Homo sapiens: one gene and its partner. The protein of the gene in region 2 purifies or fractionates together with the protein of the main gene of each other region. This does not show direct contact. Each region holds a gene or a part of one and is shown on either strand. Other genes may lie near its edges.

What was found. Proteins that work in one complex are often made in the same cells at the same time.
Region 1: the proteins of CCDC68 (region 2) and RABGAP1 purify together in Homo sapiens (affinity purification with mass spectrometry; 4 studies listed by BioGRID and IntAct, with this or other methods). This does not show direct contact.

Annotation. Positions count from the first base shown.
Region 1 is NC_000009.12:122,936,683-122,944,019, reverse strand, and holds the start of RABGAP1 (rab GTPase-activating protein 1), read right to left. Parts: upstream 3,001-7,337; 5' UTR 2,927-3,000; intron 2,882-2,926; exon of another isoform or gene 2,772-2,881; intron 1-2,771. UniProt on the Homo sapiens protein: May act as a GTPase-activating protein of RAB6A. May play a role in microtubule nucleation by centrosome. May participate in a RAB6A-mediated pathway involved in the metaphase-anaphase transition.
Region 2 is NC_000018.10:54,956,439-54,964,223, reverse strand, and holds the start of CCDC68 (coiled-coil domain-containing protein 68), read left to right. Parts: upstream 1-4,762; 5' UTR 4,763-4,888; exon of another isoform or gene 4,889-5,041; intron 5,042-6,175; exon of another isoform or gene 6,176-6,249; intron 6,250-7,785. UniProt on the Homo sapiens protein: Centriolar protein required for centriole subdistal appendage assembly and microtubule anchoring in interphase cells. Together with CCDC120, cooperate with subdistal appendage components ODF2, NIN and CEP170 for hierarchical subdistal appendage assembly.

The sequences.
Region 1 (7,337 bases), on a different chromosome or scaffold from region 2:
CCTCCAAAGGAGGCTTTCCTTTAGCTGGAAATATACTGAATAAAAAACAAAAACTTCTTTTTTTTTTGAGACGGAGTCTCACTCTGTCGCCCAGGCTGGAGTGCAGTGGTGCGATCTTGGCTCACTGCAAGCTCCGCCTCCCGGGTTCACGCCATTCTCCTGCCTCAGCCTCCCGAGTAGCTGGGACTACAGGCACCTGCCACCACGCCTGGCTAATTTTTTGTATTTTTAGTAGAGACGGGGTTTCACAGTGTTAGCCAGGATGGTCTCGATCTCCTGACCTTGTTATCCGCCTGCCTTGGCCTCCCAAAGTGCTGGGATTACAGGCGTGAGCCACCGCGCCCAGCCAACAGACTTCTTTAAAAGAAGCTGGGCTACAAAGTTCAGTTAATAAATTGTGTGGAAAACCATGCCCCTCATGTAGATAAAGTGCATAATACAGTTCTCTCAATATGCAGCAGAAAAGGTAGGAAACAGGTGTCTCTGTTCCCACTACATTACTACAACTCTTATAAACTGCAAACAAAATACTATGCCAAAAATGCCAAAATGCACATAGCTGATAGGTTAACTTTCCAAACAAATATATACCTATTAATGTCAATGCGTTAACTGTAAACTGAATCATAACACTCAATTAAAAGAAAGTGTGGCCGGGCGCAGTGGCTCACGCCTGTAATCCCTGCACTTTGGGAGGCTGAGGCAGGTGGATCACCTGAGGTCAGGAGTTCAAGACCAGCCTGGCCAACATGATGAAACCCCGTCTCTAGTAAAAATACAAAAAATTAGCTAGGCGTGGTGGCACACGCCTGTAATCCCAAGCTGAGTCAGGAGAATCAGTTCCTTGAACCCAGGAGGCGGAGGTTGCAGTGAGCCAAGATCACTCCAGCCTGGGCAACAAGAGCACAACTCAGTCTCAAAAAAAAAAAAAAAAAAAAAAAAAAAAAGAAAGTGCACCACAACATGACTATATCTCAGATTTTTTGTTGTTTTTTTATTTTTTATTTTTTGATGGGAACTGGCTGTGTTACCCAGGCTAGAGTGCAGTGGCACCCATCATAGCTTACTGCAGTCTTGAACTTCTCAACTCAAGTAGTCCTCCCACCTCAGACTCCCAAAGTGTTGGGATTACAAGCATGAATCACCTCACGCCACAAATATTTCAACTTTAATTATGAATCTGAGTTAATATCTTGAATTAAAATTACATATGAATTTTAAATGTTACCAATACATAAAAATCAATCATGGATTGAAATTTTATTAATACAAAGTGAACTCTACACAGGAAGATTTATAAAGACTTCTCTTCCCTATTTTGTTTTTTTGTGTTTTTTTTTTTTTTTTTTTGAGACGGAGTCTCGCTCTGTTGCTCAGACTGGAGTGCAATGGCACAATATCGGCCCACTGCAACCTCTGCCTCCCGGGTTCAAGCGATTCTGTTGCCTCAGCCTCCCGATTAGCTGGGACTACAGGCGCCTGCCACTACGCCCGTCTAATTTTTGTATTTTCAGTAGAGACCTGGTTTCACCATATTGGACAGGCTGGTCTCGAACTCCTGACCTTGTGATCCACCCGCCTCAACCTCCTAAAATGCTGGATCACAGGCGTGAACGCACCCGGCCCCTATTTTCAGTTTTCATAAGTAAGCTCTAGTTAAGTCTTCAATACATATTAAATAGCACCTTATACAAACTTGAACTAAGGCAACACGTCCTTCGTTTAAAAAAAAGTTGGATGAACCCTCCTTAGTACCTAAGCTTTTTTTCCCAACTACTTTTCAAACATCAGTTTAATGTTACAAACACAATTCCATTCACCTTCCGTTGTTTTTTTGTTTTGTTTTGTTTTGTTTTTTGTTTCCGAAACAAAAACAGCTGGAAACTCACTTATTGTGTACTTACTACTCCAGGCACACGTTTGTAAATACATGTGAATGGAAATATAAAAGGAATTGTGAAACCCTGTCCCTAACAGGTTTTTTTCCCTGACAAAAAGCCAACGAAAGTCAAAAGACCTCAAATTCAAGTTGGAACATGATTTAAAACTAACGGAGCACTAGTAGCGGGAACACTAGCAGCATGATCACTTAACACGGTCTCCTAGGACATTTGTTTCCAAAAAAGAATTCTCGAGTAACCAAAGGTATGCAGATGCGTGAAACGCAGGAGCAGATGATAAACAGTCTGGATGCAGAAGAGCAGAGACCAAAGTACTACCAGGCAATGGACAGCGAACTCCTGGAAGTCTTGAGGTTATCCTTTGGCTCAACACGTAAAACCCTAAGGGTGCGGATAATCAAAAGACACAGCGATGAGGTACTGGGGTAGCTGCTTCAAGGAGATGAGAAGACTGGGATGCCAAGAACGCTTTAATTGCAGACGGGGAAATGAGACTGAAAGACCAACCTGAGATGGCAAAGCGACAGTGAAAACTAGCAAGTCTTTGAAATTTAGGCGCAGCCCAGGACAGCCTGAGGCCCAGGCTAGCTTAAGTCACAGATACAGGCCTAGTGAGCAATGGGGAGAAACTGAGGCGGGGGGGAGCGGCTGGATTCCCAAATAGGACCAAGCATAAAACATTAAAGTCAAGACACAAACCGGCTTTGCTGGGGGACCAGAGGGAGGGCCAAAAACGCAAGACTCAGAAGACCGGCACCCACACAGACAGGGGGAACCGGTTTGGGCAGGGGCTCCCAGAGCGGCCCAGCCTGCGCATGCGCCCTCTCCCCTCCGTCGCAGTTCCCCCTCCCCCCAATCACGGCTCCCCTCAGAACTCGGCCCGTCGAGGGAGCTGAGAGCAGCTCCACTGGCCCGACCCCGCGGGATGAGAAGACAGCTTGGCTCCCCGCAGGGGCCGTCGGAAAATACCCCTGGGGTTGGTAGGTAGGAGGGTGGGAGGAGGAGGAGGGGAAACACGGCCCTACCCGACCTGCCGTCTCCTCCTCCGCCGCCCGCCGCTCGCCGTCCCGGAGGCTCCGCCGCCTGGGCCTCCCAAACCGCCCTGTCCCCGCCCCCCCACCCCTTTACTCACGTGAGAGCGACTTCTTCCGCCCTCCGCCCCGCCCCCTGCCCCGTCTCATAGGTCTGCGACCATGACGAGCGACCCTATTGGCCCAATACCGGGAAGCGAGGCGGAGCTTCCTCTTCTCCGAGCCCCACCTGGGCTTTCAGCCCGCCTCAGGACTGTGCGCCTGCGCGAAGTGCACTGGCTGTGAGCTGGACCTGGGCTGTCTTGTGTATTTGGAGTTGGACAGCCAACTACGTGACTGCAGCCGGGACTGGGGACGATGGAAGCGGACTGGGTAGTACCTGTTGAGCCTAACAAAGGGTACAACCCCAGAGTACTGGTGCTTGAGCAAGGAATCCCCCTGCTCACCTTTCATGTGCAAGTCCTGTTTGAAAATCAGTACTTCACAGTGTAATAAAATTCACCTGGCATTTACTGAGGGCGCACGGTGTGTCAGGGATTGTGATGGTTCTTTATGTGGCTATCTCATTTCAGCTTCACCACAAACCCGTCAGAATGGTACCATTTTTCTCCTTTTATAAAGTAATTTAGCTTTAGTTACAGAATCCAGTCTAGAAGTCAAAACTTCCGACTGCCAAGTCCTAAAACCACTGGTACAACACAGCTGCCTAAAGGCATTTAAGGCACACAAGAGGACAGAAATGGACAAGGTTACATCAGATTGTGACTCAAAGATGAGATTTTTATTTAAAAATCATTCAAAGGTGAAACACAGCAACAGCAATATAATGAAGTTTAAAGTCCCTGTCCTCAATGAATGTACAATGCAGTTGGGAACAAAAACAATGATTATTAAAGTGCTAGTTAAGTCTTATTTTTAAAGAGACCCTATCTTGTCCAGGATGCAGTGCTGTGGCTATTCACAGACGATCATATCACACTCCACCCTCGAACTCCTGGGCTCAAGCTATCCTACCACCTCAGCCTCCTGAGTAGCTGGGACTGTACATAGGCATGCACCACTGCACCTGGCTCATAAGACTTGATAATTTATAAAATAATTCTACAGCCTCTTCCTTACTCTTCCCCTTTATTTATTCCAACTGGCATATGCTCTTTTCCTGGTGAGTGAGTCGTCTACAGTGTTTTCTGGTGGATAATGCATCCCGATCAACCAGAGAAAAAACAGTGAGAAAAATCTGTGTTCTGTTGCAATCCCTCTGTGATTTGTCTAATACAATAGATGTGGGTGTACCCCTGCAGAAAAATAGTTTCGCTTCCTTTCTCCTTATACAGTTACAAAATATCCATTTCAAGATATTCAAAGAATAAAGTATTAGGGAGAAAGTAAAATCCCCTGAACTCCCAACAAAACCACTTTTAACGTTTTGGTGCCCATACTTTCATGTATTTCTTGATTCATGGACACCCCAAATATTTATGTAAATCTTAACATACATTTTTAAATAAAATTGTACTACACAATCAGTACAACATGCTTTGGAGAATAGACACAAGCTAAAACAACAACAAAAAAAGAAAACATTGCATTTAAAAAAAATTTTTTTTAATAAAAAAGGCCAGGTGTGGTGGCTCATGCCTGTAATTTTAACACTTTGGGAGGCTGAGGTGGGAGGATGGCTTGAGCCTAGGAGTTCGAGACCAGCCTGGGCAACATAGTGAGACCGTGTCTCTATGTTTTAATGAAAAACAAAAAAAAACCATGGCATTCCCAGGGCCAATGTTAATACTTTAGAGTATATCCTTCTGTGTGTGTGTATTTTTTTTTTCAAAATGAGATCACTTTAGTCATCTCCTTTTTCAATTAAAAATATCTACCTTATTTCAGTACATTTTCTTCTCACCTAATTCCTAGATCACATTCACATTTTCTATCCATCTAAAGTTATTTTTACAGTTGGCTTTCTTAACTCAGTAATGTTACAGGAAAATTTCCTCTCACATAATACCTAACTACAATCAAATATTCTGTTGACCAAATTATATTTTTCTACAACCAGTATACCCAAATTATCCAATTCAGGACCATACATTCCATCTGGTTACATCCCTTGACTTTTTAATTATGGCACTTAAAAAAAAATTAAAAGATTCTTGTTCACTGTAGAAATCAGGCCACTTGAAGTGCAAAATGTTTTTATCTGAGTGGTTGCTTCCTCATGAAGTCATTGAGCTTGTTCCTGCAAGCCTTGTATTTCTTGAACAAGAAAGTTATATTTGAAGACTCAGTGGATTCAAGTCAAACATATCAGACTAGTATACCTCACAAGTGACAGGTTATACTTCATGTTTCATTATATTACATACAACGTTATGAATCTAACATGTTAGATATTATGTTAGATACATAACATTGTATCTACAATAGATATAACATTTATTGTATCTTACAGAGTTATGCTAATATTGACCACTGGATTAGTGATGACATACATGTTGTTTTTATCATCTAATCCATTTTAAAAATAGACTATAGTCTGTTTCAATGCCTACCAATGCTATATATTGATATCCCATTCACAGAAAATGAATTTTGGTTTCCAAATATGCTCAACTTTTTTTCAGTAAGTGACTTTGTACCCAAGAAAATGTGGTTACAGTATATGAATGGAATGTGGGGCTGGTGTGAAATAAAGCAATGTAGTAGGCTGGAGCCAAAATAGGAAGGTCCTTGAATGCTAAAATAAGGAAACTGAAGTTCACTCTATAGACACACGGGTGCCCTTGGATATTTTAAAGGACAGTGACAATATTAGATTTGGGGTTTTTTTAAAGATCACTCTAGTAAAACTAGAGCAGGGAAAAGGGGAGGTTGATAGAATAGTTTGGAGGCTGCCTAAGATGAGGAAGGCTTGAGCTAAGGAAGCAGGAGGTAAAACGAAGGAACAGGGTTCCGCGGGTATTTTACAAAGAAATATATTCAAATTTGCTGGTTCTTTCTTCTGCTCATTCAAATCTGTTTTTGAACCCCTCTATGTAAATTTTTCATTTCAGTTACTGTATCTTTCAGGTCTAGAATTTCATTTCAGCTCCTTTTTTTTCTAAGAGTCTCGCTCTGTCACCCAGGCTGGAGTGCAGTGGTGCAATCTGGGTGCACTGCAACCTCCACCTCCTGGGTTCAAGTGATTCTCCTGCCTTACCCTCCTGAGTAGCTGGGAACACAGGCATGCCACCACACCCAGCTAGTTCTTGTATTTTTAGTAGAGATGAGGTTTCACCATGTTGGCCAGGCTGGTCTCGAACTCCTGACCTCATGATCCACGAGCCTTGGCCTCCCAAAGTGCTGGGATTACCGGCATGAGCCATCACACCTGGCCTCAGCTCCTTTTTATAATTTCTCTTTAATGATAGTCTAATTTTATTCATACATTGTTTTCCTGACTTTGTTCATGTCTTCCTTTAGTCCTTTTTCTGTTTGTTTGTTTTTTTTTGGAGATAGAGTCTCACTCTGTCACCCAGGCTGGAGAGCAGTGGCAGGAACTCAACTCACTGCAAACTCCGCCTCCCAGGTTCAAGCAATTCTCCTCCCTCAGCCTCCTGAAAAGCTGAGATTACAGGCGTACGCCACCATGCCCAGCTAATTTTTGTATTTAGTAGAGACAGGGTTTCACCATGTTGGCCAGGCTGGTCTCGAACTCCTGACCTCAGGTGATCTGCCCACCTTGGCTTCCCAAAGCGCTGGGATTACAGGCGTGAGCCACCCCACGCCCAGCCCTGTTAGTTCTTCGAACGACTTCAAAATAGTTGTTTTAAAGCCTTTGTCTATTAACTCAGACATCTATCTTGGCTTCTGTGGGAATAGTTTGAGTTGATTTATTTTGTTCTTCTGAATTGACCATACTTTCCTGTTTATTTGTATGTCTTGTGATTTTTTTAAAAATTTTATTTTTCAACTAGAGATGGGGTCTCACTATGTTGCCCAGTAACAACCAATTAAGTGGGACTACAACCACATGCCACCACATTTGGCTTCACTTTAAATCCTTATGATTTGTTGTTGTTGAAAATTGAACATTTGAATCTCATAATGTGGTGAATCTGAAAATAAGATTCTCCTGCCCCCATGTTTGCTGGGCTTTTGTAATTGTCTCTGTGCTGGGGATCAGGATCAGCCTCGGGTGAAAGCTTAAGGTTTTCTCAGGTCTTTTCTTAGCCTGTGTCTTTCCCTGGTTATATGCAGTAGCTTTCTACTTTCCCCTGCCTAAGTGATTGCTTTTGAATATCCTAATCCTTCAATATCTGACTCATAAATGGAGTAAAAGGGAAGCAAACAAACAAAACAGGTGCTATTCTTTTAAAACCCTTGGAAAGAGGTTCAGCTGGTGGGGGGTCAAAACAGTGGCAAC
Region 2 (7,785 bases):
AAAAAAGTGATGGGAGCATGCCTCCTTTATAATTTTGCAAAGCCTTCTTGATTTTGTGCCTTAAAAATGAAATATTTCATAACAAAACCTAATTAATGTTTGAATTATGACCTGACCTAGGTACAAAACTATGGTAGGCAGAATAATGCCCTCCTGCAAAGAAGTCCATGTCCTAATCCTTAGCCCCTGTGAATATGTTATCTTATGTGGAAAAGAGACTTTGCAGATGTGATCAAGTTGAGGATGTTGAGATGGGGAGATTATCTTGGGTCATCTAGTTGGTCTTAATGTCATCACAAAGGTCTTTATAAGTGAAAGTGGGACAGAGTCAGGAGGACATGTGCTGCTGGTTTTGAAGGTGTAGAAAGGGGCTATAAGTGGAGAAATGCAGAGAGCCTCTAGAAAAGGCTAGAAAATGCAAGGGAACAAATTCTCCCCAAGAGACTCCAGTAAGGAATAGTTTATTTTACCCTGGTACCATGACAGGCTTCTAACCTACAGAACTTTATAACAAAAAATGTGCACTGTTGTAAGCAGCCAAGTGTGGTTATTTGTTACAGTACCCACAGAAAACTTATAAAACAGCAAATGCAGTGCCTCAAGCACTTTATGGGAAGACCTAAGTGGGACACCCAACATAAACTGGGGAGCTCAGGGAACGTTTCCCTATACACAGGAAATAAATGGAGAAGGAGTTTCCAGGTCAAAGAGGAGGAGAAAGAACATTCTAGTCTAGGAGTTGGGGGTGGGGGTGAGACAAGAGCAACAAAAGGAATAAGGTAAGAAACGAGAGTTGGTTTGGAACACTACAAATCATCCAGCCTTGTTGAAAAACAATGTGGCAAGAGATGAAGCAGGAGGGGTGGATGGGGGAGAGCAAAGCAACTTCTCTCCCTGGAGAAGTGTTTAGGCTTTTAATAAGAGCTCATGGGGAGACAATGAAATGTTTTAAAGAATGGTGTGTGTTTGTGTGTGTGTATGCGCACGTGTTAGAGGCTGGAAATGACAGTAAAATTTGCATTTAAAATTGCACTAAATATATGTATGTGTGTATAGACACACACATGTATTTTAAATGCAAATTTAAAATAATATTAAAATAAAATAATTTTAATACATTTTAAATGCAAATTTTAAATAAAATAAAATTGCACTAAGTACACGCACACGTGTGTGCGCGCACACACACACACAACTTTCCCTTTCAGCAAATAATCCCTGAACAGAAATAAACAAGAGCGATTTCAAATATGAGCCTGGGTCCAAATGCCACAAGCCACAGGCTCTGAATGTCACAAGGCAGGGTGTTAGATTTACAATTAGACCCTCTTTGAACGTGGGTGACAATTCACAGTGTTCTTCAGGAGAGGAGACTGCATCTGCTGCTTTCTTCTGCACCCTCAATCCCTCCTCTTTTTAGTGGAGTGAGTAGGAGAACGGATTTATTCAACGAGGGCACTCTGGGTGGTTTGGGGATGCTTTAGTCCCCGGGACCTAATCTCTATCAGACCCAACCAAAGCCATTCCGAAAATTATGTAATAGCAATACTTTTTCTTAATGTGGATAATCTTAAAAGTGTAAAGATATACAGCTCTAGGAAAATTTTAAATGGTTTGTACATATGCTGTCATAAAAATAATAATCAAAGGCAGTAGCTGTAAGAGAAATCCATAAACATCAATCCCTGCCTCATCCCTAATCCCCCAATATCCAACCTCTGAGAAACACCACTGGAGTTTTAAATTAATAATAGTTTATAGATTCTCCTGAGCTTCCCTGTGGAGGTTGCTAATATATTGTAACTCCACACTCTCATGAATCCTGAGTTTACTCTGCTCCCCTCCACAAAAGTTTTATTAAAGTTACTGAGAAAATAGTCTATTTGCAGAACTATGAAATAAAACTATGATTTCATTCTAATTAGAATGACCACTTTCACTTAAAGTCTCTCCTCTCCCGCCCAGAAACGTACACAAGAATCTCAGCTTCATCTCTGACCTTGTCGCTTTCTTCTGGGATATTGTCTTAGTTCCAGGGGCTATAACAAAATAACATAGACTGGTATTAACTGGCTTCAACCACAGTTATTTATTTCTCACAGTTCTGGAGGTTGGGCAGTCCAAGATCAAGGCACCCAGAGATGTGGTGTCTGTGGAGGCCTGCTTCCTGGTTTGCAGATGGCTGCTTTCTTGCTGTGTTATCACATGACAGATATCTCTTCTCTCTCTCTCCCTCTCTTTATTTGAGACAGAGTCTCACTCTGTTACCCAGGCTGGAGGGCAGTGGTACACTGTCAGCTCACTACAGCCTCTACCTCCCAGGCTGAAGTGATCCTTTCGCCTCAGCCTCCTGAGTAGCTGGGACTACAGGAGTGCACCACCATGCTCAGCTAATTTTTGTATATTTTGTAGAGATGAGGTTTTGCCATATTGCCCAGGCTGGTTTCAAACTCCTGGGCTCAAGCGATTCACCTGCCTTGGCCTCCCAAAGAGATGGAACTATAGGCATGAGTCACTATTCCCAGCCTTTTGTCTCTTCTTAGAAGGGCACTAAAACCCACTCATGAGGGCTCTACCTTCATGACCTAATTACTTCCCGAAGACCCCACTTTCACCACCACGTTGGGGATTAGGATTTCATTATATAAACTTTTAGGGGGGAACACAAATCATTCAGTCCATAGCAGATATGGTGAGTCTTAGGTATGAAATGTTTTCCTTTAACTCTTACTTTTCTAACTTTGTTAAAAATAGTTGAAAGATAGAAAATGAGTTAGCTCTGCAGTTCTGGAGTACTCACTGGTACTTCACCGCATCCTGTGTTTACCCAGCTCAACCCAAGCTAATGGAGAAGTAGATTTCCTTCTCCAGGAAGGGTCAAGGCCAGGAAGAGAGGTGGACAGGTCTCAGAAAGCAGGCAGTGTCAAATGCTGAGCAAAAGCCAAGCTCAGAAGGAGGAAATGTGGTGTTTATGGAACCAACTTGCAAATGCAAACATGAGCAAACCAAAGCAATGTAACAAATGATCCTCAACAGCTGGGTTTCTTCAATGCTGAAACTTGTAATAAACATCCATGGCTATCTTTGGAACACGATTTGTCTGTAAACATACATACATCTATTTACTAGAACCACAAGGATTAGTTAACAAAAAAATTACCTAAGAACCATCAACTTTCACTTCTCCAATTGGGTCACAATCTACAAGTTAATCTGCTAGGAAAAAAAAAAAATAACATTCCTCTCTAACTGTGGTGGGAATCAGTAATCATAGGATTCCCAGGAAGATTCTGAAAAGCCCTTGGATATTGAAGGATTTGGGTTGCAGTTTTCTCAATCTGTTAGATGTTGAGGGGGGGCGGAGGAAATACACCTTTTTTTTTTCCCCACAATCCTAAAAGTTTATGAACTTTCAGAGAGACACAGGAGCCAACCTGAAAGAGTTCCCAGTGGTCAAAGCTGGAACCATTTGAGCAACAAAATTAATAATGTAGTATTGAATTCTAGCCCAAAGTATAAAATAAATATACATGGGTCCATACTGACATAACAAATACTGACATAAATGATTGAATAAACAAGAGAGATGGAACAAATCTTCCTTACAGAATCATTCTAAATAATAACATATAGATACTCCCTGCTCTGGGATGGAGTTTAATCTTGCCCTCATCTTGAGTGTCAGCTGAATTGAGTCATGCCATTCATGCCATTCAGAGTAGAGTGTATGGAAAGAGAAAAACAGCTTTGCAGTAGAGAAACCTGGCAGACACAACCTTAACTATGGGATCAAGGTCAAGTCACCAGTGATAAGTCACCTGGCCATCGTGCCATCGTCCCTGAGAGGATGCAGTGGGGAAGGCACTTCATCTCTGAGTCTTTCCTCCCCCCAGTCTCATCATGAGAAAAAAACAGTAGACAATACCCACATGAGTGGGTGTCGAGGTACCCCCACAAAACTATACCTTACCAGAATACTTCATCACAATACTTTACTAGAATTCTTTACAGCTGTCAAAGTCAAGAAAAGACAGAGAAACTGTCATGGATTAGAGGAGACAAAGGGCACAGGATGCTAAATGCAGTGTGGTATCCTGGCTGGGATCCTGAAAGGGAAAGGCGTTAGCCAAAAAGCTAGTGACAGCTACATCAAGTCTGGAGTAGTGTTAATAGTGGCAGATCAATGTTAATGTCTTTTAAAAAATATTTTTAGTAGAAATGAGGTCTCGCTATGTTGCCCAGGCTGGTCTCGAACTCCTGAGCTCAAGCGATCCTCCCGCCTGCCTTGGCCTCTCAAAATGCTGAGATTACCAAGGCGTGAGCCACCGCACCTGGCCCAATGTGAATTTCTTAGTTTTGACAAATGTGCCACAGTTATGGAAGCTGTAGGCATTAGGAGACACCGACTGAGGGGTATATAGACGACTCTCTCTACTATCTTTGCAACTTTTTTTAAGTTCCAAAAGAAAGTTTTTTAAAAAAACAACAAAATTGCACTTGTACTCCATAAATTTATACTAAAAACAATAAAATCAAAAATTATTTAAAAAACAAAAACAAAAGTTTATAAACTTAGGGTGCAAATAGAACCTTCTTGAAAAGCAGCGGCCGATCCCCTCCCCCCACCCGCCTGTACAGCACCCTAGCGAGGGGCGTGAGGGGCAGAGCCTGGCTCTCCAGCGCTGGGCGTACGCGTCCTGCCGCGACTCCTCCCCGGGGCCTCACCGGCGCCGGACTCTGCCCTGGGCGCGCCCCGCGGGGCGGAGCCAAGCCTGCGGGCGGTGGCGGCTGCACTCGCAGGGCCCTGGCAGCCGACCCTGGCCCCAAGGTCCGATCGCCCAGGGGAGGAGCAGCACCGGGACCCCGCGTCGGCTGGGCGCCCCACAAGGTAGGCGAGTCTGGCCACCTTCGGGCCCGGTCCCTGCGGCGCGCCCCCGCATCCCCTCCATGTGTGTGGGTGTCCAGGTGCCTTTCCAGCGGCTTCCCCAGTGGAGTTCCTGGCATCAAGGACATTTCCTGTAAAAGGGTCCTTGTTGAAGAGGTAATCCTCCCTGGAAACCTCGGTTCTGGGCTCGAATTTCCTGGGCGAGAAGTTTCTTCCCCATTGGGAAGAGCTGCTTTTCCGCAGAGAGGAACCCCTACTTAGTCCGGCGCACACCTGATTATTTATTTAGGTTGTTGTTATACAATCCGTTTGTCAGGGGTCCCCGCGATTTCTGCCTGCTAATTTCAGAGGCTATGGAGAAAAGTCCTGCGGTAAACGCCCTGACCTAGGAACTCCAGCGTGGTGGCTTTGACAGGTCACTGCGCTCGCATTTTTTAAAGAGCAGAGATGAATGAAGGTGGCTGTCTTCATTCATTTGTGCGGGCTTCTGCAGCCGCAGGTGTAGTAAAAAGAGCAGCCCATTGCTTGACCTTTTCCTTAATGTTGAGTAGCATCATGATATTTTAGATGTGGAAGTTACAGAGTGCTAGGCGGCTAGACAAAGGAACACTCTTATCTTACTGAAGGTTAGTACGGGACCGTGCAAGTGTAGTTTTTAGATTGGATGATAACATAGCTGTGAATTTTCAGCCTTTTTGGAAGTGAAGACAAAATTGAATATAAGGATCAGAACAAGCAACAAGCCCTGAACATAACTGAAGGTGTACCTGCTCCCCATTATATTCTGATTGTTTTATTTTAGGAATCAAAACCTCTTTTACTTTCTTGGTGTATATAGTTCGGATGAAGTGTCAGAATACAAAAAGGAATTATTCTGTGTTTGTGATAGGGAGGAGATAATCTGTTCTTTTGATTTTACCTAATGCCATTAAATATTCAGAGCTACTGAAGTCTGGTTTTCCTGATATGTGAGCTGGGCAGGAGTGTCAGGTACCCTGGCAGACACAATTGGTGCTGTTGTTATGCTTTTCCCCCGCTGCCCACTCTCTTCCCCACCCCACTCCCAATTTGAGAGGGAAGGCCCCTGACACAGAGGAATTTCTGCCCAAGGCAGGGAGTATCCCCGTGTGGTTCCTCAAATGTTTGCAGAAAGAATGAAAACAACTACACTTCTTGGGACCCAGGCCAACGTCATAAGGCCGACGTCATAAGAAGGTTCTTTCCTCTTGTTATTTACAAAATAAATTGATCCCTTGTCCTAACTAGAAAGAGACTTTTGAAATTAATACTGTTGCTATTTTGTGAATTACTGATAGGCATGTTATTTGTTAGCTTATTTGTTTACAGTATGCTCAACATTGAAGGTGAGTTGTAATCCAAATTTTGGCCAAAGCTAAAAAATGTAAGCTAGATTTAGACAAACCTGAAAAATGAGGTGTTTATTTGCTTGGAATAATGACTGAAAGGGGAAATAACTGAAGATTTTGATGGGAATGTAAAAGTCTTTTAAAATAGTAGTTTCTCATCTTTAGAACTGAGATATTTACATCAAAATTATATGGCTATTTATTGATTGAAAACATTTCATAATGGCAAAATTTTACCATGAATTTACTAACACGTTTAAATGAATGTCATTTACTAAGCACAAAAACAGCCATTTATATAGGTTTGGAAAATGAGAGAGAGAGAGAGAGAGAGAGAGAGAGAGTGTGTGTGTGTGTGTGTACATTGTTTTAGAAACTATTTGGTACATCTGTAAATTTGTGGGCCTATTCATGTATTCATTGAAACAATATTTATTGAGGACACTGTGTTCTGTGTGGGAGAACCAGATGGGAGGGGAAGTAGGGTCTGGGCCAAACACAGCCCTGTGTAAATCAGACACATTTCTATCCTCCTGGAATTTACTACATTGGAGTCCTCCAGGCCACCCCAAGTCAAGGCCATAGATTTACAGACCACATAAATGATCCATTCAATTTCGACAGTGACTAAAACTAGATTAGTTTCAAATCACATATTTCCTTTCACTGATTTAAAAAGTCAAGTCTAAAAATGATAGAGGAGCTTGCATGTTATTCTGCTCAGTGGTTTTCTCTTTTGTTTAGGTTGGGGAAGAACTTAGGAATCATGTGTTCCAGGCTTAATGTTATGAAATATTAACTTAAAATAGCTAAGTATCAATTTCATGCAAATTAAATAAAAACTAAACTTGTAGTATGGATGACAATAATCTAGAGACAAAAATTAATGAACAAAAAATTTAAAACTGAAAAACATCTATCCATTAAATTATATTTTTTCCTATAAATTAGAAAAATAAGACTACAGTTACATTCACCCCACCCCCAGAGGAAAACAGCATCTTTATTCAAGTTATTCTTACTTTTCCTTCTGTATTTTTTTTTAAAAAAGCTTTATTGGAGGTATAATTTACATACCATAAAATACATCCAAGTGTATAATTCAATGATTTTTGGTAAATTTACTGAATGGTGCAACCATTAGCACAATCCAATTTTAGATCACTTCATCATTCCCCAAATATCCCTGGGGCCTGTTTGCAATCACTCACCGTTCTTACCCCAGCCCCAGCAACCCCTAATCTATTTTGTCTGTTTAGATCTGCCTTTTCTGGACATTTCATACAGATGGAATCGTACAATATATAGTCTTTAGCATCTGGCTTTTTTCAGTTAGAATAGCTGTTGAGGTTTATTCAGGTTGTCACATGTAGCTGTAGTTGGTTCCTTTTTATTGCTTAACTAGGATTTATTCCATGCCATGGCTATGCCGCATTTTGTTCACCATTTGGTAGACCTTTCTGCAAATACTTTTGCATGGTAAAACAGATACATTGGTGCAGCTTCTATGGTAGCATAATGTGAGAATAACTG